Linked DNA regions of Homo sapiens. The protein of the gene in region 6 purifies or fractionates together with the protein of the main gene of each other region. This does not show direct contact. Each region holds a gene or a part of one and is shown on either strand. Other genes may lie near its edges.

Region 1 (3,500 bases), on a different chromosome or scaffold from region 6:
ATATATGATTCCATCTAATAGTAGCCTTGCTAGTCTTGATGCAGGGTCATTTTTTATTTCTGTTTTATTATGCATAAACCTGCACAGAGGGGTAAAGTAACTTGCTTAAAGATAGGCAAATAGTAAGTGACACAAATAGGAAATTGGTTCCATGCTTGCAAATCCTAAAACCATGCGCTTTTCCCAGGTAAGGGATAGCAGATGTGTGCTGTGAGTCCCAAATCTCATCTCTATTTAATCGTGACAGTCCTTCCCATGGAGCCTAAGTGTGGCCTCAAAATCTCCACATGTCAATTATGTGTACAACTCTGGGGGTCATTCTCTTTATTGTAGTCCATAAATAGTATCCATTAGAGTTGTACAGTGCATAAACTATATAACCGTACACGATAGCCTTGTTTTTATGTTGCTGCTTCTAAGTGATAGGAGTTGGTACACAATTTATTTCATCAATCTAGGCCCAAGCACACACTGGATCCAGTAATACCCACACAGTAAAAATACTTAAATATTTATCGTTCACATTGATACATGCTATTAATCAGATTAAACATGTACAAGACATAGAGACCAGTATTTGACTGGTAAATCTTTATAGGTACGTTTAAAATTATATTGATGTCATGTTGGTACAGTTATTCCTATCATTAGATATTTTGTTTGCATTTTTCAAATGGATAAAGTAAAATATTAATTTAATAAAATATATAAAGGCCATGAAGAAATGGGGGGAGTGTGGCAGATAAAAGAGACAGCTGGATGTGTCTGATAGATCATTTCTGAGCCACCATTGGTCTTTGCTTTAGGAGCCCAGCAAGCTGGAAGCTAATTATACCTTAATGACTAAGTATGCATGTAAATTTTGCCTATAAACATGTGATAAAATTTTCTATGTAAAACAGGTCATTTCCAGCTGACATTTAAAAAATTTTCATTTTAAACTTTCTGTACTCATAAGAACTCATCACTATATTTTGCTGTAGCTGTTTAATGAATCTATTGTCCTTTTTAAATTGAGAAATTAGTTTTAAAAGATCCCACTTTCATGAGATGCTCAAATGAGCATGCTTTCATGACTCAGTTTTTCTATCCTTTTCTTTAATAATTAAAGTTAATTTAAAATTGGTATCAATTTCAGAGTTGCTGAAGCTAGAAATTATTATCAGGTTGATTTTTTTAAAGGTCATTTTCAAGCCCGTCAGTGGCTAACTAAAAATAACTTCTCAAAACAACATAACTATTGCCTCTTAGTTATATCTTGACATTTAATCTTAAGGCTTTAAAAACATTATCAATAAGAGAATACATGGGTAATCATCTATTGTGCCTGATGAATTTCTTTCCCTTTGGTATGAAGTGGAAATAATGTATTAACAAAGACTTTTTACTCAGGGATTTTAGTGAGTGTGTTCTGTAATATTTTCCTTCATGAACTTGACCATTGAACATAATTTGGGTAAATGAAAGTAATATGTCTTTTTTTTCTATTTTTCACACACAGGGTATAATGCAAGATGTCCAATTACTTGTCATGCCCCAGGGATTTATTGCTCAGTGCCCAGATCTTAATCGCAGTAAGTCTATTAGTTCTTGCACTGTGGAGTCCCCATATATTACTTGTCAGCATAGACTTAACCAGATTGAACCCCTTATAAATGCATCTTGACCAAATGTAGTGTTTGTAATTCCAGCCTGTCCAACTTGCAATGACTTCCATGGACTTGTGCAGAAAATCATGGAGCTACAGGATATTTTAGCCAAAACATCAGCCAAGGTAAAAGCTACTCAAGAATACAGTGTGGAAGCTTAAAAATCCTTGATGTTCCCAATACTTCCATTTATAACCATAGATTTTCACCTTCGAGGCTCTTCTTATACTATACTGTTTGCTAGGACTGAATCTAAATCTCTGCTTAAGGAAAGGCTTATAAATATTAAAACCCTAGCCATCTGTATAACAAATAATTCAGTAAATCAGGAATGAGGCAGATTACCTAATTTATACACTGCTTACTACAGGAGGATTTATTGTTTAGCTTTTATTATTATTTATTTTTATTCAGTTTTTCATTACAAGCAAGGAGGCAGTAGGACAGTGTAAAGAATATAGACACCAGAATTGTATCAAAGAAATGGTCCCATAAATGCTTTCTACCACTATGTTACAGTTCTAGGATTATTTACTAATATCTTAAGCATATGTCAGGTTTACCTACAATTTCACTAGACTTGTAATTTTGTATAGTAGTTACAGAATACCTGATGGTTGTGTTGTATGGTGTATGATTTGTTTCTTATACAACATAAATTCTGAATTTTATTTTTTTACTTGAAGAAGCATATAAATGAAATTAAACATTTTTCTTTTAAATGGAAAGTGCTTCTCTGCATTTGAGTGATGTTTTGAATTAACCTTTGATTTATGTCTTATAAATTATGTTGTTTGTTTCTAAGGCAGGGAGCAAATTTATCACAAAAAGAAGAGGAGAGAAAAAAACATTCTTTTAAATTAAATTAAAGTCTTAAATATGTTTATGGCAAGTGGTTGATAAGCACAGCCATCATCATTGCTACATACTTTAAAAAAAAGATACCTGCGGAGTGTTTCACATTTCTGTGTTGCTGGAAGGATGAACAATGTAAAACCCGTTCTTTTGTGCCACAGCTGTCTCGAGCTGAACAGCGAATGAATAGATTGGATCAGTGCTATTGTGAAAGGACTTGCACCATGAAGGGAACCACCTACCGAGAATTTGAGTCCTGGATAGACGGCTGTAAGAACTGCACATGCCTGGTATGGCTTCTATTTGAGTTGAGACTAAGGGAACTCAGATGCTCCCACTCTTTAAAAATTTATTAAAACAATGTAATCATGAAAATTTCAAGACCCATTTCCTCAAGACACAACACTAAAGTGTCAACAAACCTGGTCATATCTAAAGAACTGTGTTGCATTATTAAAAACACTTTCTAGCTTCTAAAGATGATTATGGTTTAGGAATGCTATAAAGTTTAAGTTTATTGGTACACACATGAAGTTAGCAATTTAAATTAGGTAAAGTGATTCCTAAAGAAGACTATCCTCTTATCCTTAACATTTCCAGAGATTTTTCTCCCTTGTGTTTTCATGAATGCATTTTCATGAAACTAAGTCATATGCAGCATTAAATATTGTGTCCAGATTGAGCAATATAAGCAAATTAGATAGAGTTTAAATGATTGGGACAATCTAATAGTTTATTAATACAGTGGAATACAAATTATAAAGTTTAAATAAATGTGATTTTGCTAATTGCTCGCTAATGAAGTAGAATATTTTATTGCATTATGATTTCAGAAATATATGTTCATTTTCAAAGAAAAGTTCAAAGAGTTTGGTTTTAAACTTTTAAATTACACATGAACTCATCTGTTAAAGCTGGTTTTCTGGAAAGAAGTCAGACATCTATGTGAATTAGGCTTTTAAAAAAATTTCTCAAAGTTCATCCAGTTTATTCAAA
Region 2 (3,500 bases), on a different chromosome or scaffold from region 6:
ACTCTGTTGCCCAGACTAGAGTGCAGTGGCACGATCTCGGCTCACTGCAAGCTCCGCCTCCCGGGTTCATGCCATTCTTGTGCCTCAGCCTCCTAATCAGCTGGGACTACAGGCACCCCCCACCACGCCCGGCTAATTTTTTTTTCTATTTTTAGTAGAGACGGGGTTTCACTGTGTTAGCCAAGATGGTCTCGATCTCCTGACCTTGTGATCCGCCTGCCTTGGCCTCCCAAAGTGCTGGGATTACAGGCATGAGCCACTATGCCCAGTCGAGAATCATCTTAAATTTGCTGAAGTGCCCAGGCATGGTGATGTGCACCTGTGGTTCCAGCTACTTAGGAAGCTGAGGTGGGAGGACTGCTTAAGCCCAGGAGTTCAAGTCCAGTCTGGGCAACATAGTGACACCCTATCTCTTTAAAAAAAAAAAAAAAAATCTGGCTGCAGTGTTATAAGTAGAGACATACGTGTATGATTTCATCTCTAAATATAATCTTTCTTTAGAATTATACATGGGACACAAATCACCAATACAGCAGGAACTCATAGCTATGAGTACAGGACACAGCTGTACACATGACGTGTGTACCTAACCTTCTGAGCAATGTCAAGGCAACTCAACTGTGTCCCATGTTATCTCTCTGCGCTAACTTCACAAGCTAGTCCCTGTGCAAGACATACCTCCACTGTGTGTTTGTGTGTATATATATATATATATATATATAAATGATAAGACTAAAGACATGTACACAATTAGTATAGCTGAACTAGCTAAAAAGTCTGCTTCCTGCTTTTTTGTTGTTGTTTTTTTGAGACAGTCTTGCTCTGTCGCCCAGGCTGGAGTGCAATGGCGCAATCTGGGCTCACTGCAATTTCCATCTCCCGGGTTCAAGCGCTTCTCCTGCCTCAGCCTCCCAAATAGCTGGGACTACAGGCACCTGCCACCAAGCCTGGCTAACTTTTGTATTTTTAGTAGAGACAGGGTTTCACCACATTGGCCAGGCTGGTCTCAAACTCCTGACCTCAGATGATCCACCTGCCTTGGTCTCCCAAAATGCTGGGATTACAGGGGTAAGCCACTGTGCCTGGCCATTTTTTTTTTCTTTTTTTTTTTTTGAAACAGAGTCTCGCTCTGTCACCCAGGTTGGAGTGCAGTGGCACAATCTCAGCTCACTGCAACCTCTGCCTCCCGGGTTCTAGCGATTCTTCTGCCTCAGCCTCCTGAGTAGCTGGGATTATAGCTGCGTGCCACCATGCCTGGCTAATTTTTGTATTTAGTAGAGCCGGGGTTTCACCACGTCGGTTAGGCTGGTCTCGAACTCCTGACCTTGTGATCCATCCGCCTCGGCCTCCCAAAGTGCTGGGATTACAGGTGTGAGCCACCACACCTGGCTTTTTCTTTTTTTTTTTTTTTGAGATGGAGTCTTGCTTTGTTGCCCAGGTTGGGGTGCAGTGGTGCAATCTCGGCTCGCTGCAAGCTCTGCCTCCTGGGTTCACGCCATTCTCCTGCCTCAGCCTCCCGAGTAGCTGGGACTACAGGCGCCCGCCACCACACCCGGCTAATTTTTTGTATTTTTAGTAGAGACGGGGTTTCACCATGTTGGCCAGGCTGGTCTCGAACTTCTGACCTCAGGTAATCTGCCCGCCTTGGTCTCCCAAAGTGCTGGGATTACAGGCGTGAGCCACCATGCCAGGCCTCCTTTGTTTGTTTGCTTTTTGCCTTTGTTCATAATCAAAGATGAGCTCTGCTGCCATAACAACTTCGTTATTTCTGGGTCAGAACATCTGGCTTCTATGACTTATTCAACCAGTGTCTGTTGAATTTCTCAGCTAAATGTGGAAGAATCTATTTCCAGATGTGGAAGATAAAAGTGCAAAGGGGGCTTGGGGCCCCTGAGAAATAGGGGTCACCCAACTGGGGCTTAGGGGTTAGGGTGGTTTTTTTTTTTTTTTTTTTTGAGATGGGGGTCTTGCTCTCTCACCCAGGTTGGAGTGCAGTGGTGCAATCATGGCTCACTGCAGCCCTGACCTCCTGGGCTCATGCAATCCTCCCACTTCAGCCTCCTGAGTAGCTGGGACCACAGACACGTGCCACCAAGTCCCGTTAATTTTTTGATGTTTCTGTAGAGACAAGGTTTTGCTATGTTACCCAGGCTGGCCCAAATTCCTGGGCTCAAGAGATCCTCCTTCCTTAGCCTCCCAAAGTGCTGGAATTACAGGCATGAGCCACCTCACACAGCTGGGTTGGGGGTTTTGTCAGATTTTCAGTTGACGCTGCTGAGAGTGAGGCAGATTCTCCCTTTTTCATGGAGAGGAGTCCAGAAGGAGGCAGAAAGCAAGCTGGCAGATCAGTCACAGAGAGCCCTAGGACTGGAAGAGCCAGGATTTCTCACTTGAGTTACTCAAAGGAAAAGCTTTATCATCCAGGTACAATTAACAATAGCATTCTCTGGCCAGGCGCTTAGGATTCAAAGTGTAATCCCAGCACTTTGGGAGGCTGAAGTGGGCATATCACTTGCGATCAGGTTTGAGACCAGCCTGGCCAACATGGTGAAACCTCGTCTCTACTAAAGACACAAAAATTAGCCGGGCATGGTGGCTCAAGCTTGTAATCCCAACTACTTGGGATACTGAGGCCGGAGAATCGCTTGAACTCGAGAGGTGGAGATTGCAGTGAGCTGAGATTGCACCACTGCACTGTAGCCTGGGTGACATAGTGAGATTCCATTTCTAATAATAATCATCATCATCATCATAATCATACGACGGGCACGGTGGCTCACGCCTGTAATCCCAGGCCGAGGCGGGCGGATCACAAGGTCAGGAAATCGAGACCATCCTGGGTAACACAGTGAAACCCCGTCTCTACTAAAAATCCAAAAAGTTAGCTGGGCATGGTTTCGGGCGCCTGTAGTCCCAGCTACTTGGGAGATTGAGGCAGGAGAATGGCGTGAACCCGGGAGGCGGAGCTTGCAATGAGCCATGATCACGCCACTGCACTCCAGCCTGGGTGACACAGCGAGACTCCATCTCAAAAATAAATAAATAAATAAATAAATAAATAAATAATAATAATAGCACTTCCCTTCACTGCATTTTGAGTGTCCTGATTAGGCAATAAATTCTGTGGTCATTCCTATCTATGCTCCACCCCTGAAACAGGGAATCCTTCCTTTCTTTCCCTGGATTGGAGCAAAGATAAAGAATTTAGATTCAAAACTTCAGTGCCAATACTTCTACAAACTGGCTGTGTGACTCTGGTGAAGTCACTCCATTTCTATTAAAAAATGATCAGCAGAGGCTGGACGCAGTGGCTCACGCCTGTAATCCCAGCACTTTGGGAGGCTGAGGCGGGCGGATCACCTGAGGTCAGGAGTTCAAGACCAGCCTGGCCAAGATGGTGAAACCCCGTCTCTACTAAAAATACAAAAATTAGCCAGGCGTCATAGCAGGCACCTGTAATCCCAGCTGCTCGGGAGGCTGAGGCAGGAGAATCGCTTGAA
Region 3 (3,500 bases), on a different chromosome or scaffold from region 6:
CAATTCTATTACTTCCTTCAGAAAGTAGGGAAAGGGGATGGTTGGCCGTAGAAATCCAGAATTTGCTACTGGGACTATTCCTTACAGCCGTGTCAAATCACTTTCCCCCTTCCCTAAGGAACAGTATTTGAAGGAATCCGGGAGACTAGGAAATGCTTTGTCTCTTTCCTGTTTGTGTGTCTGAGTCCAGTGTTTTTGGTGAGGGGGAGACACAGCTGTCTAAAATTAAATAGAACAACGATGCTCAGTCTTTCTTTTTTCCCCCACTGCTGCGTGAATGGAGGCAGATTTTATAAAAAATAAAATTTAAATTCTAGTTGTAGTTGAATGTTACCAAAAAATTTAACCCCAGAGGTCAGCCTTAATTATACCTCTTCCTGAAAGTAATGCTCTTCTTATAGAAAGTCTCTCAATATGTGGCCCTTGGAATGAATGTAGGATTTGTTTGGGTATATGAGGTTTGACTATGGCTTTAAAAAGTGTAGTGTGTTTTTTCCCCATATCAAGTTTGACCAAATATTCGTCTGTTCCCAAGCTTCGTTTGTGCTGTGTTGCCCTGTCCAGTCCTTTGGGACTGAAGTAAAAATCTCCATTCTGTGGGTCATCTTTGCCTTTTAATTCTATAATGTTCTTATCGTCAGTTCAGCTCTTAGCTTAAGTTTTTCAATTTCCGTCATTCTCCTTTAAAATCATAGCTAAGTCAAGTAATGCTCTTAGATCATTTAGTTCAAGGTTCAGAAAGACAGTCACTTACCCAAAGGCATATAGGTAAAGCCAGACCGGGGACTTGAAGCAAAGCTTTTCTGACTTCTCCAATGAGTGCTTCTCGATTATGCTACACTGGCCCCTCTTGGTGTCACTGTGGTTTTAGTTATCATCTTAATATATTTCAGACCAATCCTTAAGCTATTTTGTGTTTTTTTCCCTCTGAATGTATAACTTCCTATTTCAATATATTAAGCAACCAAAAAACAGACAATGCCTGTGTTCCTGAAGAAGGTCCTTCGAAACTAACCTAAGAGGTGAGGGTTCTCTTATCCTATTTCCCTATCTTGCATTTAACTGAAGCGCTTGAATAGAGGATAGTATGTCTTTAAACCCTAATCATAAAGTCAAGCAAGGAGTAAACTTGAATGTAATACTGTCTTAAGCTTACTCTGGAATTTGTACCTGTTTTTCTGTTTCTCTCCTTTGTTTTTGAACTTTGGGAAAGGACAGCTTCCTTTAGAAGGTGAAAGAGGATGGTGGAGTTGAGCCATTAAGGGTAGGATAGCTGCAAACTAGTTCCGGGACAGCAACATTAAGGATTGATGAAATGTTTACATTATCTTTATTCAGTTAGTTCTTTAAGTTCCATGAGCCATTGAAATAGGAAGAGTCTTTCTACATGTACTTTTTATCTGACTTATTAATCTTGCCCTTCTTTAAATGTTTTCGTTTAAATAGCAAAAGATGTTACAATATGTACTATTGTGCTGACATACCGGGGAATTTTTTTTTTACAAGACCATTTTTCATTATGAATTTGTACCATGTGTCAGCACCTTTTTTTTTTTTTTGGTTAAAACAAAACATACAAATCATATTTCTGATCTTGACCCTCATTTTTAGATTGGGTTTAGAATCATTCTGCACCTTTAATGAAAAACTGTTCTTACTTCCTATTTCCAGAACTGAAATCAAATATAGACCTACTATTCAAAACTTTGAAAATGTTTTAAACTGATGGGTTATTCTTTTATGGGGGTTTTCCCCTTGTCCTCCTGAAATAATCTCTTATGACTACTTGACTACAGAAAAATCAGTTCAAGCATTTATATTTTAGAAGCGTTACCCTGTAGAGTTTCTGCCGTCGGTTGAGACTGCTTGCACTCAAGAGGCACTGTGGCTCTGTGAGTCTCACCTCCCTGTATCGTGGCTGATAAACATCAGACAGATTGTGAGGACTCCTTTGGTGTCCATTCTGATCGAAATCCATTATTAACTCAAGCCATCTGTAAAAAGTATCTCACCATAACATGCAATTCTCTCTTCATGTTGCCTTTTATTTGAGAAATGATGTACCAAGGCATCACCATGTCTCCTTTAATAGAAAGATAATGAAGAAGGAAACCTTCTCCAAACAACTTTGTTCACTTCACTCCTTTTAAAAATGGGGTGATTGCCGGGCGCGGTGGCTCACGCCTGTAATCCCAGCACTTTGGGAGGCTGAGGACAGCAGATCACCTGAGGTCAGGAGTTCAAGACCAGCCTAGCCAACATGGTGAAACCCCATCTCTACTAAAAATACAAAAATTAGCCGGGCGTGGTGGTGGGCGCCTGTAATCCCAGCTACCTGAGAGGCTGAGGTAGGAGAATCGCTTGAACCTGGGAGGTGGAGTGAGCCGAGATCGTGCCATTGCACTCCAGCCCAGGCAACGAGAGTGAAACTCTGTTTCAAAATAAATAAGTAAATAAATGCCATTGCACTCCAGCCCAGGCAACAAGAGCAAAACCCTGTTTCTAAATAAATAAAATAAAATAAAAATGAGGTGATTGCAGGCTGAAGGTCTTGGTCACTACTGAGTTCTAGTTCTCTCAAGACAAATATTCATATGGTCAAAACAGAATTATAATCTAACGAGTCATTCTTATAGAGTGGGATTCGGGGAGGGAAAACAGATAGCTAGTAATTTAAATGATCTTAATGTAATTTGGGGAGAGGATGATCAGATGACATTTAGACTTGGATATAGTTTCTGCTTCAAACCCACGCTGTGTGTGTCTGTTTGCATACTCTCTAAAGAAGGAATTTGAAAAAAAAAAAAAAAAACAAACCTATATTGTCCTTGTTATCAGCCTTCCATTAAGCGCTCCAACTCAACCCATCCTAAGCTGTCAAATCTCCTTCATTGTGTAAAATTGAAAAGAAGCCCTGTGTTTTGTCCGGAAGCTGTGGAAACTGTGGACGGCGGGGTGTGTTCTGTAACTGAGGCCACAGACAGAAACAAATCTGCTCAAGTGGTGGAGGGGTCTGCACCGCACATAAAGAGCTTCTGTGGGAGCAGGTGAAGCAAGGAGGTATTGAAGCCGGGTGTCCTCTTGCTGTTGAGTTTATAGAAGGCACAGAGCGGCCTGTCCCCAGCAGTAATTCTTTAGGACCCTGGTCAGTTCCAGTGAAGTTTCCTTCTTGAGTTAGGTGAACACATTCTTTGTCTTTTTAGCACTGTGAAGTTTAAGCTACACACCAAGTTCCTCCTTAGTATTTGCTTGGTTCAAAGATAAACTGTTACAAACTATGGGTCAGGGAGATGGGTAGTCTAAGATGCACATTCTGGATCTTTCTAGGACCAGAGGGAGACTTAGTACTTGGTTTTTTCACTTCCCTTTAAAAACAATCCTGGTTCCTGTTCCCCCTCCAAAGTTACCTGGACAAGCACCATAGTCTTAGAGTTTCAGCTTTTATGGCGTCTGTGTCTCAGACGTGCATTTGAGATGAAGATGTTTACTGTATATTAGAA
Region 4 (3,500 bases), on a different chromosome or scaffold from region 6:
CAGCTCTAGCCTATCATTTGCACTGCTACCAGCATTAACACAGATATGTTCTTTCTCTTTGGTTTTAAAACCTCAGATTATTAAAACCCTCAGAAGAGTATTCCCTTTTCTAAGGGATAAAATCTCAGTTCTTTAACTTCATTGACAAGGCCCTTCTCAGTTTGTCTCCAGCCAATATCTCCATTCATACCTCCTTTAACTCCACCATTGTTCTAGAGATATGAATCACACAGGTTCTTTAAAACGTGGTGATAATCTTTTCACGCTCTGAGCACGGTGGCTCACGCCTGTAATCCTAGCACTTTGGGAGGCTAAGGTGGGTGGATCACTTGAGCCCAGGAATTTGAGATTATCCTGGGCCACATGGCGAAACCCCATCTCTACAAAAACAAATTTAAAAAAGAAATACTTCACCCCCTGTGCTTCTAACATACTGTTCCCTTGGCCTGAAAGGTCCTTCGCTCACATCCTGAAAAATTCATCTTTTAATCTTTTTTGGAGCTTACATCGAGTGTATTCTCAGTGACGCCCTTTCTAACTCAGAAGGTAGAATCAATAGATTCCTTTTTTATGTGCTGATATTTCTTGTCACAAATTATCTAAGAACGTATGCCCTGTGATCTAAACATGTTTATTTTTCAGTCTTCTCTTCTAGATGCTATGCTTTATCCAGGGCAGGAGTCCCATCCAGTTCATCTTTATAATCTCGTGTGGCTCAGCTCTGAGCACTTAGTATTTTGGAATTCATTTGTAAATCAGTTCCTGCCCTGAAGGGGTTTATGATCTCTTGGCAAGACACCAGGATAGGGGACAGCCAGCCTTGTCCTGGAGAATATGCTGTTTGTCTTAGAGATTCTACACACCCCTGCACAGAGGGGTTAGATTACTTTCAGTGTACCCAAACGGATTCTAATATACCTGAAGTGGGTGGAGATGGGAAATATATAATAGTTCAGTACTGCTATGAGAACTCTTCCCCTTCCCTTCAGTAAATTGGTTCCCTTCAGTAAATTGGTTCTAGGCATGTTTCTGTTTTAAAATCTGTTGTAAATATAAAACATCTTTTAAAAAGCATTTTACAATTTGAAAAAGATTCAGTTTGAGCAAATTTAAGTAGAGAAGCTTACAGGCCTTTCAAATAATTTAGGATGCAGAAGTAATGAGCAGAGATCTTTGTTTTGACTCTAGCTGGCAATACTAGGCAGATGTCTGGACATCTTCCTGCTAGCCTTTGACTCACTCAGAAGAAAGACATGTTTAACTATTTAGAGAGGCAAAATCATGGCAGACCAAGAGATTACTATAGTAGTTTTAAAATACAAAACAAAAGCTGTAATTTAGTCTCTTTCTGTTGATAATGGTGAATTCTGTAAAACCTTTAGGCTGAATATACATTGTACCTCCTCTGTTCTTTTTGGCAACATGTACACTGACACCAAGGTAAAACTACGTGAAGATCACCAGCAGGAAATACTTTTGAATACATTTTTTTTGCTACAGCACTTTCAGCCAAAAGCTTAGGAGTATGCTTAATAACAAACACAAAAGATTTTCAAGGGTTTGTTTCAATAACAAGGCATTTATTTGTAAGTTCTTATAGTAGCCAAAAAAAAAAAAAAAAAAGTATTATCAGTACCTGTCAACCCAGGTTTCTTTTACTGTATCATGAATTATCAGTAAAGTATGGGTTCCTTAGGCCTGTGGGTCAGAGCAAGTCCTGCTTTTTTATATAACAATTTCAAGAAGTTAAGAGAATAAAAATGTAGTTCTAATTTTAGGAATAGGGCACTCTTTATGAGTGACTGATTATACTGTTTTATTCCCCATAACATTTTAATGAGATAGAATATTATCCACATTTTATAGAAGACTGGAATGACTAAGGGAGGAGGTTAGAGAGGTAAAGCCACACATGGCTAATACAGAGGTGTCGGGATTTGACCTATATCTATAACTGCAGTGCTTCCTTCTACAGAACAGGGCATTCTGTTACCCATGTCTTTTACATGGTTATGCACTCACACAACTTTGATTAACAGCACTTTTAATTCATATATTTGATTAGTATATTTGAGCTTTTCTTAGCTATTTCTTTAGATACAGTAAATTATTTGTTGCTTTTTAATCAAAAGTACTAAGGCTAGGAAACCAAGATTCTAAATTCTGTATTTAGGACAGGGGAGGGAAAGGTAGCAGCTCTAGAGATGGCATGTGTCTAAGTGATTCTTTGCCAGTTTCTGATGGGATTATTTGACCAATGGTATTCATTTAAATTGGTCCCATCTGTGAAGTGAGAAAACAGAGGTCAGGCATAGGAAGAGTTAGATTTTCTTTCTGGATTAAGTCTTTTCAGTGAGTTCCACTTAACTGATGGGACATTGCTGGGTTGAAATACTTGTAACAGAAATTAATAGTAGTTTTAAAAAACCTATGGCTAGTTACTCTTTGGTCTATTACAAACATCTCCCTTATAAATAAGCATGCATAATTGAGGAATAACTGAATGGTTCCATATAGCAATTTAACATGGATTAAAAGAAATAACACTTTTGAATATAGAAGACAATGTCTGAAGCCTTGGTATAGATCCAAATACTCTCAGTGGTATCTAAGAACAAAATTTTTATTACTAGAAATTCTCTTCACAAATACCTAGTGGGGTAGTAAATTTGCAAAAGTAGTCCTCTTATAAGATAATGTAGATTATAAGATGCTTTAGTAAACTCTGGAATGTCATTCCAATGACCCAAGACCACACATCTCTATCCACTAAACGTATCTGTTAACCTAGCTCAACTACTGATTATGCTGAAATAAAGTTGTTTTTGTTACATCACCATCAGTTCCAGTGGCTGAAACCATAAACTGAAGATGCATATTACTAACAATGCCAGTTAGTTTTAGATATTTTGAATCCATGTTTTGGGTTGCTAGACAGCCACCTTGGAAGTCTGATACTGAGGTGCTATTCACAGGAAGAGCCCCAAATTCACCACCCTGTGTGCCATGATACAGTATAAAATTTACTGTAGGTTGTTCATCTCTCTAAAGTAAACGTCACATTAACATCTCTCAGCATATAAAACCAGGAAGTAAGAGTTCCTCTGTGACACAGAGACTGCCTAAAACATGATGGAAACAGATTTAAAGTGAATGCAGCAGAAGCAGTTCTTTAACCCAAAAGGAAAGGGATAAGGGTTATAAGATAATAGATAATATAGTCTACTTCGAAACATATTTGGCATACACATTTACCAAGATTAATCTTACCTGAAATACAAACATATGCCTTCCTGCGGGAACAGGACCCACTAAAACAGAGTCTAAAACTTGATCGTATTCTTCACTTTCTGCAGAGCCCACATAGATAATTTTCCATTCCAAGTCTAGGGTTAAAAAACCAAAGCATTATTTCATATTCAGTAATTACATTACCAGATGACATCAAAGACCCTTTTAATGTCCACTTAGCCACTTACTGGCTTTAAAATTGGCTTCTC
Region 5 (3,500 bases), on a different chromosome or scaffold from region 6:
TATCTCAAAAATAAATAAATAAATAAATAAATAAATAAATAAATAGCTATTTTTTACCTTCAGATCAATGGAAAGCCACTGGACTGTTCTAAGTATGGTGATCAGATTCATGTTTATGTAGAGGATGAATTGGAGGGTAAAGGTGATGGGCAGTTGGTATGGGCAGTCTTGTTGTATTAGAACTGCAATAACAAATTAAATTCAAAATCTCAGTGACTTAACACAGTAAAGATTTGTCTCTGTCACGCAGAGTCCAGAAGGGTTGGGCAGCCTTCTCCTATCATGAAGTATGCTTACCAAGGTCATCTTGGTGGGAGAAAACAGAGCTTTAAGATCACTTTTATTTAACTTTTATTTAATTTTTGATGTTTTAAAAATCATTTTATTGTGGTAGGATTCACATCTAAAAAGCTGTATTTAGTGTATTTAAAGATCACTTTTAAAGGGCCAGGACTGGAAGTAGTTTACATAACTGGGCCCAGCTTGGCTGTTCAGAACTCAAATGGCTGTTCAGAACTCAGTCATACAGCCAACTCAGCTTGCCAGGAAGGCTGGGGAATGCAGTCTTTCCTGTTCAGCCAAGAAGAGAAAACAGTATGATGTATACATATCCTAATCTCCCTCCTCTGCAGCCACTTGAGGAGTTACTGCAGTCCAAGTAAGAGGCAATGGAAGCTTGGACTGAGGGTGAAATGAGATGAATGTATCAGAGAAAGATGAAAATCCAAAGAGTAAGATAATGGAGGAGTTGCTAAGAACATCTCTTAGGCTTGGAGCCTTATGTGACTAGGAGGGTGGTGATAGCTACTGAGAAAGGAAGACTGGTTAGAAATGGACCAGCTTGTTTTTTATTTTAGACATGTTGTGCATCACATGCCTTTGAGACACACAACTGGAGATGTGAGATAGGAAGTTGAATGTAAAGACTAGAAGCTCAGAAGAGCAGAAGTCTGAACTAAGTTTTGGCTTAGATGATTGAAAGCTTGAGCTTGGGTAAACTCTCTGAGGAAGAATGCAGAGTTCGTCCTTTCCTTCCACACTGCCATCAGCCTCTGCTTTCCACTGCATTGTCCTACCACCCTCACCCCTTGACCTCAGCTGACCTTTTGGAGGTCCCCAGAGCCCTTTTTCTTGTCCTTAGGTAGTTCCTTTTGGAACTCCCCGTCATAGCTGTTCTGAATTGTTAGTAGTAGTAGATTGGAGGAGTGCCCTCAAACCCATCCTACTCCTCCTGCCTTATACTTCACAGAGAAAATAGAATCTTTCAGACACAATTTTTGGCAGTGTATCTTCCTTCCACCTCAAAACTGTCATTTTCCCTTCCTCCCTGTTTCAGAGAAAAAAATGTGTATCTTTTTCTTAGGCTAACTCTCCCATCTGTGCTGTGGATCTTACCCATTTCTTTAGATCTCTGATATTGTTAATTTTATGAGTGATTAAGATTATCTCCTCTGGAATTGCTTGAACCCAGGAGGCAGAGGTTGCAGTGAGCCGAGATGGTGCCATTGCACTCCAGCCTGGATGACAAGAGCGAACGTCCATCTGGAAAAAAAAAAAAAATCTCCTCTGGAGCCAAATTGCCAGAGTTCAAATCCCAATTCCTCTATTGTTTACTCTGTGACCCTGGGCAAATTATTTAATTTTGCTATGCATCTTTAAGATGCAAATAGTGATAGTAGCTGTCTCATAGAATTGTTGTGATTTAGAAGTGTCTAGCAATAGTAAGTACTCAGTGTATGTTTTAATTTTTTTTTAATGTTTTGGCTCTTCCTCTTTATTCCTTCAAGTTCTTAAATATCTAGAACAGTTACATCTCCCCAATCATAAGACAACTTGCATGAAGTACCATTCAATCTTCCCTTTTTTCTTCATTGTTAACCATCTTATGTTTTCTGTCTTTACCTCTTCAATTCCCCATGGGTCCCCAGTCCATTATGGTTGACTTCTGTCCCATTTCTCCCATCTGTTGAAATGTTCAGAGGCCCAATTGCCAAGCCCAGCGATCTGTTTTCATTCTCTGAAATACTGCAGAATTGGCTGTTGATGACTTTCCTCCTCAAAATATTCTCCCTTGCTTCTAAGATGCTGCTTTCTTCCTTCTTTTTCTTCTTAGTTTTCTGATTACCTCTTTTTAGTGTCCTTGATGGGTTTCTCTTTTTAATTTTTACGTACTCAGTGGTGAGAAACTAGATTGGTTTTTCTTTTGCTGCTTAATGTTGGTGACCCCATGGTGTGGGCTAGTCCAAAATATGGATTAGGTGAAGCCTTCCAACGAGATCCGTGCTCATATTTCTGCCACTGTCTGGTCATCTCCACCTAGATGTCTTGCACAGTCTTCAGAGTGGATGTGTCGTACTGTGCCATATTTCCTTTTCTGTTCATATATTGCAGTCTAGTCACTAATCGAGAGAATCCTGGGGCTTCTCTGATACCACTCTTTTGTGTCTCATTCAGCTATATTGGTTTGACTTTGACATGTCCTTGAATTTTTCTGTTTTTAACCTCACTGCTGTAGTTCAGAGCTTTCTTCTCTGAATATTTGTAATTGTGTCAAAATTGGTTTTCTGCTTCCAGTTTCTGTGCCAGTTTCTCCTTCAAGTATTCAGTGTTAATTTCCTCAAGCACAAGTGTCTAATGGTATAAGAAACCTCCACAGACATCACTTCTGATAGAAAAAAAGACAAAATTCTTCCTTACTGAGGCTTTTAAGGAGCTTGTAAGTTACAGCCAGATTTGGCTGAGATTTATCTGTTTTATAATTGCAGAATGCACATTTACTTTGTTTTTGATTACTAGTACATCATTGATTTAATTTACAAATCAGAATTTAGAATGTTTGAGATGCTTAGATATTGATTGATGTATTTAAAGATTGGTTGATTGAATATAAGGCTTTAGATGTTGCCTTCCTGCTTTTAGAAATTGCTTGTTGGGTCAAATGTGACTTCAACATTATGGACTAGGGAGTTAGAGGGATTGGGATCTGTTTCTAGTTCTTCAATTTTTGTTGCTTTGAACATTTTATTCATCTGTTGCAAAATGGAGATTCTTAACTTGCTTAACATAAGATACGTTGTAAAGATCAGAAATATGCTACTCCTAAAGCAGTAAAAGGTTTAAGAAAAGTGCTTTTTAAAATTAGGAATGTGGTAATATTGTGTACTTATGAGTTTTCTAGTCCTAATTTTCTGTTTCTGCCACTTTATTAGAGTGAATGTTCATTTATGAACAGAAAATGTGGAGTAGATGGCATTGGAGTGTGTTATTTAGAGATCTTTAATGAATGAGATGATGAAATAGCCCAGTTACCTTAATATTAAGTAAATGCTAGGATCTTAGTGTATCTTTCTCCCAGGATTCTTGCATGTGTTTTAAAGTGACAACTTTATTTTTATTTGTTTGTATAAATGTATGGGGGTACAAGTGTAATTTTGCTACATGCATGGATGGTAGCAGTGAAGCCAGATCTTTTAGGGTATCCATCACCCGAATAACATACA
Region 6 (3,500 bases):
ATCTTGCCCTTGCCTGTAAATTGGATTATGATGAAGATGCTAGTGCAATGCTGAAAGAAGTTCAACCTAGGGTATGTCAAAGTAGAGAAAGGGAAAGTCATTAGTTAAATACTCCATCGCTGTAGTGCTTAGCCCCCGACAGCTGTAATTCATCTGAAAAACAGGCAAAGAAACAAACCATTGGAAGATATAATCTGTAATTGCTGAAGTTTGTGCTCGACTCTGGAGATCTCATTAGGTTTTCATGCTTTCATTTCTCATGCATTATTAGAGCAAACTCTGTTACTTTGTTTGGAAGCCTGCAGTGGAATTATAACCAGAAAATTAGAAAAGGGGGTATCAGGTTTACAACAAGGAAACAAATAGAAAATCTATAATTAGCATTACCCAGGATTGAATCTGATGTGTCCTTATTTATCATAGGTGTGTACAACCACTTTATAAAGCAAGAAGACCTTGTGGAAGTTAAGAAGTTTCAGGCTTTCCGGCCAGGCGCGGTGGCTCATGCCTGTAATCCCAGCACTTTGGGAGGCCGAGGCAGGTGGATCATGAGGTCAGGAGTTCAAGACCAGCCTGGCCAACGTAGTGAAACCCTGTCTCTACTAAAAGTACAAAAAGTTAGCCAGGTGTGGTGGCATGCGCCTACGTAGTCCCAGCTACTCGGGAGGCTGAGGCAGGAGAATCACTTGAACCTGGGAGGTGGAAGGTTGCAGTGAGCCAAGATCACGCCACAGCACTCCAGCCTGGGTGACAGAGCGAGGCTGTCTTAATAAAACAAAGAAGTTTCAATCTTTTAAAAATAATAATATTGAATCCCAAAAGTAGAACATTCCAGCTTTTAAGGATGATTTTTATCTAAAATTGTTGGTTAAAATAATTTTAATGTGTTTACATGGTAAATCCTTCATTTTGTGGGAAGTTCAGCTGTCAAGAATTTACTCTCAGAGATTTTAAGATAGTGGGAATTGTATTGAATTTAATTATTTACTGCCAGAGAGTTCATTTGGTTTTCTGTTTTCTTCTTAAAATAGGGCAAAGTTGTAACTTTGTCAGCAAAGTGTAAACAAGCTAAAGTGACAGTTGAATATGAATCTCTTAAATGTATTTTATTCTCTGAGGAAATAACATCCAGAGCATTTATTTGATACTAGTGTCTGGTATACATATTTACATTTTTCCCTCTTAATCCCTATAGCAATTTGATAATATTAAATATTTCTTCCTCTCCCATTTTATGGATACAGAAACTTAAATATACTGTGGCATATACTTGGGGTATGAGTTCCCAGTCTCTGCCTTCCCACGGCAGACATCCGTAATAATACTCTTCCTACTGAATTCAGCTGTCCGTCTGAAACCTAAACACTGTGTATCTGATAGAAACTAGCAGGCAAGAATTGTCATGCACTTAGAAACCTGTTTGTTAATCTTTGAGCTTAATTGTTTGAGATTATAACATTTCTAACTTCAAATCCCAGGCCCCTTTACTCTGTTTTACAGTGCCTCATGCAGTTGAGGTTGGTTTTCTTAAAGGCTTAGCTTGTGTTAGGTCTTTTTGTACAAGACAAATCTGTCATTTTTCTGAACTGCATGTTGAATTAAACATCTCTCTACAAAGAATATTTGTGTTGATGTTATTCAGCTTTTGGAGCAAGCTTATTTTGCTATGGCTCTTTTTTCTAGGCACAGAAAATTGCAGAACATCGGAGAAAGTATGAGCGAAAACGTGAAGAGCGAGAGATCAAAGAAAGAATAGAACGAGTTAAGAAGGCTCGAGAAGAGCATGAGAGAGCCCAGAGGGTAAATTTCCTATAGCTAAGCCATGAAAGGAAAATACGGCAAATTATGTAGAGGCATTAGGACACTAAAATTTTAATTCCTGGCTCTTTTATTTAATGCTGGCTACAGTTCTATAGAGTAATGATATTACTTATGGGGAGTCTCCTTTCACTGTATCTAATTTGGGGGACATTTTTAGTCTTAAATTATTCAGTGAGCTTTTATTTCACCATTTTATATTCTTGTTTGTGTTTTTATAAAATCAGTTGTTTTTCCAGGTCAAGTAATTGAAATGTGACAGTATTATTGTTTGATCTTTTGAGGATGCTTCGCCAGATTAATTAAATTTATGATTCCTCCTCTCTTCCAACAGTGGATGTGTTGCTATTTAAAAATGATTCTAGCAGGGCAAGGTGGCAAGTGCCTATAGTCCCAGCTCTTGGGAGGCTGTGGTGGGAGGTTCACTTGAGCCCAGGAGTTCGAGACTAGCCTGGGCAACATAGTGTGATGCTACAATAATTCACCTACTTATTTCTAACATTATTGAATGAAAGAACATGAAAGAACCTAAGGCTGTATTATATAATATGTTACATTCTAATTTTTTGTCCATTTAATATTAAGCATCATACTTGATTTTAAGGTTATAGTTTATAATCTTTAAAAGTAATTTATCTCCTTGATATTTAAAAGCAATATATCTCCTCAATAATTTTAAAACTACATATGAGGGATATTTATTTTTTGTTCATTTTCTCTTTTAAAAAGCAGCAAAAACAAATCAATAAATCTACATTTGTATTATGTAGGGAGAATAACGGAAAAGATGTACCTAGGAAACAAAAGTCATGGTAGTCTTGGTAATCTAGCCATGTCCTTCCCTATGGGTGTTTTAAAGCCAGGATGAATTTAGAGTTTTCATATTAGTACTATAAATTGTTTTCCAGGTTTACTTGTTTCCAGAGTAGAAGTAAAACACTTTACTTGAAATTACTACCAAGAATAATGCCCACTGAGAATCCAGTTTGGAAAAAATGTTTGAAGGGGGTATGAAGTATATCCTTCAGTTCAGTATTGCCATCTACTAGGTTATTTTACAATTTTTTCATGGTCTTGCATGGACAGGTTGCATGGACAGCACTTATTTCTTCTTCTATTATATAATTTATTTCCTTTTGTATCAAAGGAGGAAGAAGCCAGACGACAGTCAGGAGCTCAGTATGGCTCTTTTCCAGGTATATTTAAAGAAAAGTTAAAACTGTTTTGTTCTATTATACAGTGATATTTTAATATAATACTTAATATTTATTATAAAGTGATATTCTGATTTTGTTCTCTTATACAGTGATATTCATGAAGAACCTAGGTAAAAGAAATGATGGAATTATTAGGCATAAAAATGATGTTTTTTGTACAGTGTAAAAATAGCGTATTTTTCTTTCAAATGTGATCAGAAATTGCTAGTGAGGCAAATCTTTGAATACCAGAGGACAGGACTAACACAGAGATAGAAGAGACGGAAAAGGCACGCAGAAGATTTATTGAGTACTTCCTGATTACGACAGTGTGGAATTTATATAAAGACCAGGACAAGACTTAATTTTTTGTTTTTTAAACAACTGTCTCCAGTTGTTTAATGGTAACTAGCTTTCTCTTAAGGAAAGTTTTTAGAGGCTACGTATGCTTATATGTCACTGGTTAGAACTTAGTTGCATGATCCG
Region 7 (4,151 bases), on a different chromosome or scaffold from region 6:
ATCCCTCTCTGGGCCCTGACTCCCCACCTCCATACATCCCCTCCCCGTGAAGAAACCAGGGGGTTACACATCCCCTTTGCAACTTGTAGATTGCTCCAGGTTCCCATTTCCCAGGCTAAGATGCCGCCAGTGTGGTTGATGAGCTCTGTACTCTGTAAAACTGAGCAATTCATGGAAACCTTTCCAGGATGATCTCCATGGACTCTGGGCACCTTGGTGGTTCAACCTTAAAGCCCATGGCCTTATATCCTACAAAGCAGACAGCTTCATGACTCCATGCATCCTGGAATAAAAAATTTAAAACATCACAATAGACGTAGGTATAGGCACTCAGCCCAGACCAGGAAAGGAACCTGCAGCAGTGACAAGACCGGGGCAGAGACCAAAAACCCATGCAATTGCTGGGAGCCAGAATTCAACAGGTGAGGGAATGGGAAGGAGTCAGTGTAGAATGAAATGGGCTGAGGGCAATAACATCACCTACTTCTGGGCAGAAAAAGGACTAGAAAGGGAGCACTTTAATGAACAGAAGTACAGACGTGCTGGCAAGGATGGAAATCTCCACTGGTTCCTGGCCCCCTTCACCTCCATGCATCCCCAGCATGGGTGTTAATCATTACCCAAGCTCTCGCTGTTCCCCCTCACCCCCTGCAGAGTCCAGCAGGTCTAGATACGTGCTCTTTGAAATGTGTTCTGGGATTAAAAATGGTGCCCTGAGGCTGTCTAACCCTCACAAAAGACAGACACATGCACACACGGGCCTTGGGGAGGGCTGTGTATTAGCAGTCAGGTGGGCCCTCCTGGGAGAGCTTGCTCAAGAACTCTTCTCGGAAGGAAACCCACCTTAAGGTAGGGTTCTGATAGGCAGAGCTCCCAGAGGCACAGCCAGCTGCTAGAAGATGGGGTTATCCAGGGTTTGTAAGGTTTAAACAACGGGCAGGGAGGCAAACCGAGTCAAATGGTTTGGAAACCTACTGTGTGCAGGGCATTCTGAGGGAATCCTGAACTCTGCCTCTTTGGCATGACCAAAGCTGAAGCCAGGGACATACATACGAAGGCCCTTTGAGCTGGTGGAAGAAAGTCCTAGGCACTGATTGGACCCTTAGCTGGAAGAATGATCCATTCTTAACAACCCTGGGAGCCCCAGGGATTCTGCAGCCCCTATCCCAGCACGTGTCAATGAAACAGGCATGAACTATCCTTGGCTGTGCAGCTAGCTCAGGTACCAGTTACCCCTGTGCTTCCAACTGTATTCCAGTCCAGGGAAGAAAATTCAAGAAGGAGTTTTAAAATGTTTTTTTCTTCCTCTAAAATCAACATCTGGCTAAGCCTGTGCAGTTGGTGGCACTGAGGCACCCTCCTGGCCTCTGGCCCTGCAGACCAGGTGCAGAGGCCCCCGGGCCATTTCTGGCTGACCACCCACAAGTTATCGGCAAACAGGCAGCCGTTTCAAGGCCCTTGTCCAACCCAGCCCCACCAGAGGCCACATGCTGGAAAAGTCCCATTTTGACCATATTTTCTTGTGGAATCTGATGTCCCTGGAGGGGGCCTAAAATTTCCACGGTCATTCCCAGGGATGGGTGATGCTGTTGATGTGAAGGCCGCTGATGGCGTTCAGGAAGAGGAGGAAGGAGGCAGTGAATTCGCACCAAAACATTAGGGTGAAGCCGATGAGTGTGACTTGGTTCCTGAGGAGGATCACAAAACCCAGGAGCCCGCCGGAGGAGAGGACGAAAGACACCAGGAGGAGGATGGAACCCATGACCCACTTGCACTGTGAGTGTTTGTCCTCGCACAACTGGGACACCATGAGGAACTCCAGGCCAAAAATGGCGGCCACCACGGCCAAGGCGCCCACGCTGCGTACCAGGCCCATGCCCACGGCCAGCCCGGGCACATGGGCCTGGCCCAGGTCTCTGAAGCAGATCGTCTGGTTGGTGGTGGTGCAGAAGTGCCAGAGCCCGAAGAGGCGGTCCTCAGCCAGGAGCCAGTGCCCATCACAAATGGAGACCGAGGACAGGACCACAGCCAGGGCCACACACGTGATGATGAGGGTCCGGATGAAGGATTCAAAGAAGGACCGGCGGGGCTGCCTTTGGCCCAAAGGCCTCTGGGCCTGGAAAAAACCGTAGGAAGCACCCTGTCAGCCACAGCCCTGCCACGCCCCCAGGAACCTCTGCAGGGAAGACCCCTGAGCCCTCCATCCTGCTCCGCACTGTCTTATTCTCTGCTTGGTCTCCTGTGAAGCCCGGAACAGACCAGACCCACCGTTTGGGGGGAACCCTTCCTCCCTTCCAGACCTGTGAGCATTTACCATCCAGTATTCACCAGGCACTAAGAGCTTCCTGACCTTTCTTTCTTTTGTGATCTTCAGAGTGGGTGAGAAGTCCAAACCGACTGGCAAATCTGAGTCAGTTCTGAGTTCAGAAAACCTGTCGTGCCTGCATCCCATGACCTTGAGCATGCAGCCTGCCTCGGTTTCTTTGTACATAAAACAAGAATACGGCCTGGCAGAGTTGCCAGGGTTGTACCAAGCACTGAGACATTAGCACACCAATACACAGTTCTGTTTCCCTCCATCTCCCCAGGATACACGATTTTGTCCTAATCCCCACCCACCTGATGATTCGGGAGCTGTCCACGTTCAGCCCAGGACTCTAGATTATTGCCTCGTTTTTCTTGGTACTGAAAGTGACATTTGCATCTTGCCCTCAGACCTGTGCGGCCTGTACCCTACCCAGAGCTTGCCAACCCCATTGTCTGCTCCTGCAGCTTCTGGGCATGGGAAGGCCATTGCAGCTCTCCTCCACTTCCGGTTCAGCCCTGGAAGGAGGCGCCCCCACCCCGGTCTCCTGGCAAGCCAGGCTAGGTGTCCAGTGAGGTGTCTCATCTCACAGTTCAAGGACACCACCCGGGCACTGCACCCAAGCCCTGACCCAGAAAGCAAAAGAAAGACTTCAGGAACTCTTTACACAGCCCACAAGCCTCTCACAATCCGCTCCGCCTCCCCACCCAACCTCAGCTCCCAGCACACTCCCCTCTCCCCATGTCTAGAACTTTCTTTCCTCAGATGACTGGCCCTTAAGCCTGTAGTGGCTCTTCTGCAGCTCCTGCCACCCCTCCAGGACAACACCTCTTCTCCATTCTTCATGTCTCAGCTTAAAGTCTCCTCCACAGAGAGTGCTTTCCTGCCCACTCAACCCAGAGTCAGGCCCCTCCTGGTATTCTGTGTCAGGCACCTGTTCAAATTCTTCACCATTCTGAGGACAGTTTGTAGTTACATATTATTTCTGTCTCATTCCAACACTGTGTGCTCTGGGAAGGCCGCCCCCTACCCCCACACCACCACATTCTGTGTTTAGGCACTGCTGTGTCCCCAATACCTGGGCATTCAGTGGGTGCTCAAGGGAGAGCTGTGAGATAAGTCAAAGGTCATTGGCAACCACTGTCACTTCCGTCTGAAGCTCCTTTAAACTGAGTCTCCTGCACAGTCATACATTAAATGACCTGCTTTGCAGTGTGTCTAGAAGCTGCCCAGGTTACACCTCGGTTTGGGAGGTATGCAAAACAGGCACGCATGACGGTCACTGCTAGGACCCAGGAGAATGGAGCAGTGAGGAACATGGGGTGTGTCCTATGCCATGGGCAAATGGAGGCTTCCTGAGGCAGGTCTGGGCCACTCCTCTCTGTGTGAGACATAAAATAAAGCCCTGCTTCTGGGAGACTCCTGTGGTCAAAGAGCCCAGCAAGAGTATCTGCTCACATGCCCCAGACACAGGAGCTACCGCTAATTTCAACCCCAGGGATACAGGAATAAGGATGCAGTTTGCTTTCAGCACCTCTGCCTTAAGTAGGATCCTATTTTATTCTTAAACCTATGAGGTTGATAAAGTAGGAAGCTCCATGGTGGGTGTACAGAGAAGGAAACTATGCAGAGGGCAGGTGACTTGCCTGAGATCACTCACCTAAAGCACAATGAAGCTCTTTATGGCTGCCCAGACAATTGTATGATATGCAGGAGGTGGAATCCGTTCAGCGAATAAATACTGACTAGGGCCTTCTAAGGACAGGGCCTTTGTGCTAGGGGCTCAGTACTGAGCCCTTACAGCCCTCCCTACATGGGCTGTAAGCTCCTGGATGGGAGGGACCGC

Evidence for each region.
Region 1: the proteins of ST13 (region 6) and NELL2 purify together in Homo sapiens (affinity purification with mass spectrometry; one large-scale study listed by BioGRID and IntAct). This does not show direct contact.
Region 2: the proteins of ST13 (region 6) and ASF1B fractionate together in Homo sapiens (co-fractionation; one large-scale study listed by BioGRID). This does not show direct contact.
Region 3: the proteins of ST13 (region 6) and PRDM1 purify together in Homo sapiens (affinity purification with mass spectrometry; one large-scale study listed by BioGRID and IntAct). This does not show direct contact.
Region 4: the proteins of ST13 (region 6) and ASF1A fractionate together in Homo sapiens (co-fractionation; one large-scale study listed by BioGRID). This does not show direct contact.
Region 5: the proteins of ST13 (region 6) and DSTN fractionate together in Homo sapiens (co-fractionation; one large-scale study listed by BioGRID). This does not show direct contact.
Region 7: the proteins of ST13 (region 6) and TMEM37 fractionate together in Homo sapiens (co-fractionation; one large-scale study listed by BioGRID). This does not show direct contact.

The regions. Positions count from the first base shown.
Region 1 is NC_000012.12:44,775,316-44,778,815, reverse strand, and holds part of NELL2 (protein kinase C-binding protein NELL2 isoform b precursor), read left to right. Parts: intron 1-1,501; coding exon 1,502-1,574; intron 1,575-1,691; coding exon 1,692-1,774; intron 1,775-2,665; coding exon 2,666-2,794; intron 2,795-3,500. UniProt on the Homo sapiens protein: Plays multiple roles in neural tissues, regulates neuronal proliferation, survival, differentiation, polarization, as well as axon guidance and synaptic functions.
Region 2 is NC_000019.10:14,130,090-14,133,589, forward strand, and holds part of ASF1B (histone chaperone ASF1B), read right to left. Parts: intron 1-3,500. UniProt on the Homo sapiens protein: Histone chaperone that facilitates histone deposition and histone exchange and removal during nucleosome assembly and disassembly. Cooperates with chromatin assembly factor 1 (CAF-1) to promote replication-dependent chromatin assembly.
Region 3 is NC_000006.12:106,089,336-106,092,835, forward strand, and holds part of PRDM1 (PR domain zinc finger protein 1), read left to right. Parts: intron 1-3,500. UniProt on the Homo sapiens protein: Transcription factor that mediates a transcriptional program in various innate and adaptive immune tissue-resident lymphocyte T cell types such as tissue-resident memory T (Trm), natural killer (trNK) and natural killer T (NKT) cells and negatively regulates gene expression of proteins that promote the egress of tissue-resident T-cell populations from non-lymphoid organs.
Region 4 is NC_000006.12:118,900,652-118,904,151, reverse strand, and holds part of ASF1A (histone chaperone ASF1A), read right to left. Parts: intron 3,387-3,500; coding exon 3,271-3,386; intron 1-3,270. UniProt on the Homo sapiens protein: Histone chaperone that facilitates histone deposition and histone exchange and removal during nucleosome assembly and disassembly.
Region 5 is NC_000020.11:17,594,075-17,597,574, forward strand, and holds part of DSTN (destrin), read left to right. Parts: intron 1-3,500. UniProt on the Homo sapiens protein: Actin-depolymerizing protein. Severs actin filaments (F-actin) and binds to actin monomers (G-actin). Acts in a pH-independent manner.
Region 6 is NC_000022.11:40,829,140-40,832,639, reverse strand, and holds part of ST13 (hsc70-interacting protein), read left to right. Parts: coding exon 1-71; intron 72-1,683; coding exon 1,684-1,800; intron 1,801-2,965; coding exon 2,966-3,014; intron 3,015-3,500. UniProt on the Homo sapiens protein: One HIP oligomer binds the ATPase domains of at least two HSC70 molecules dependent on activation of the HSC70 ATPase by HSP40. Stabilizes the ADP state of HSC70 that has a high affinity for substrate protein.
Region 7 is NC_000002.12:119,434,854-119,439,004, reverse strand, and holds the end of TMEM37 (voltage-dependent calcium channel gamma-like subunit), read right to left. Parts: intron 2,715-4,151; exon of another isoform or gene 2,620-2,714; intron 2,117-2,619; coding exon 1,565-2,116; 3' UTR 501-1,564; downstream 1-500. UniProt on the Homo sapiens protein: Thought to stabilize the calcium channel in an inactivated (closed) state. Modulates calcium current when coexpressed with CACNA1G.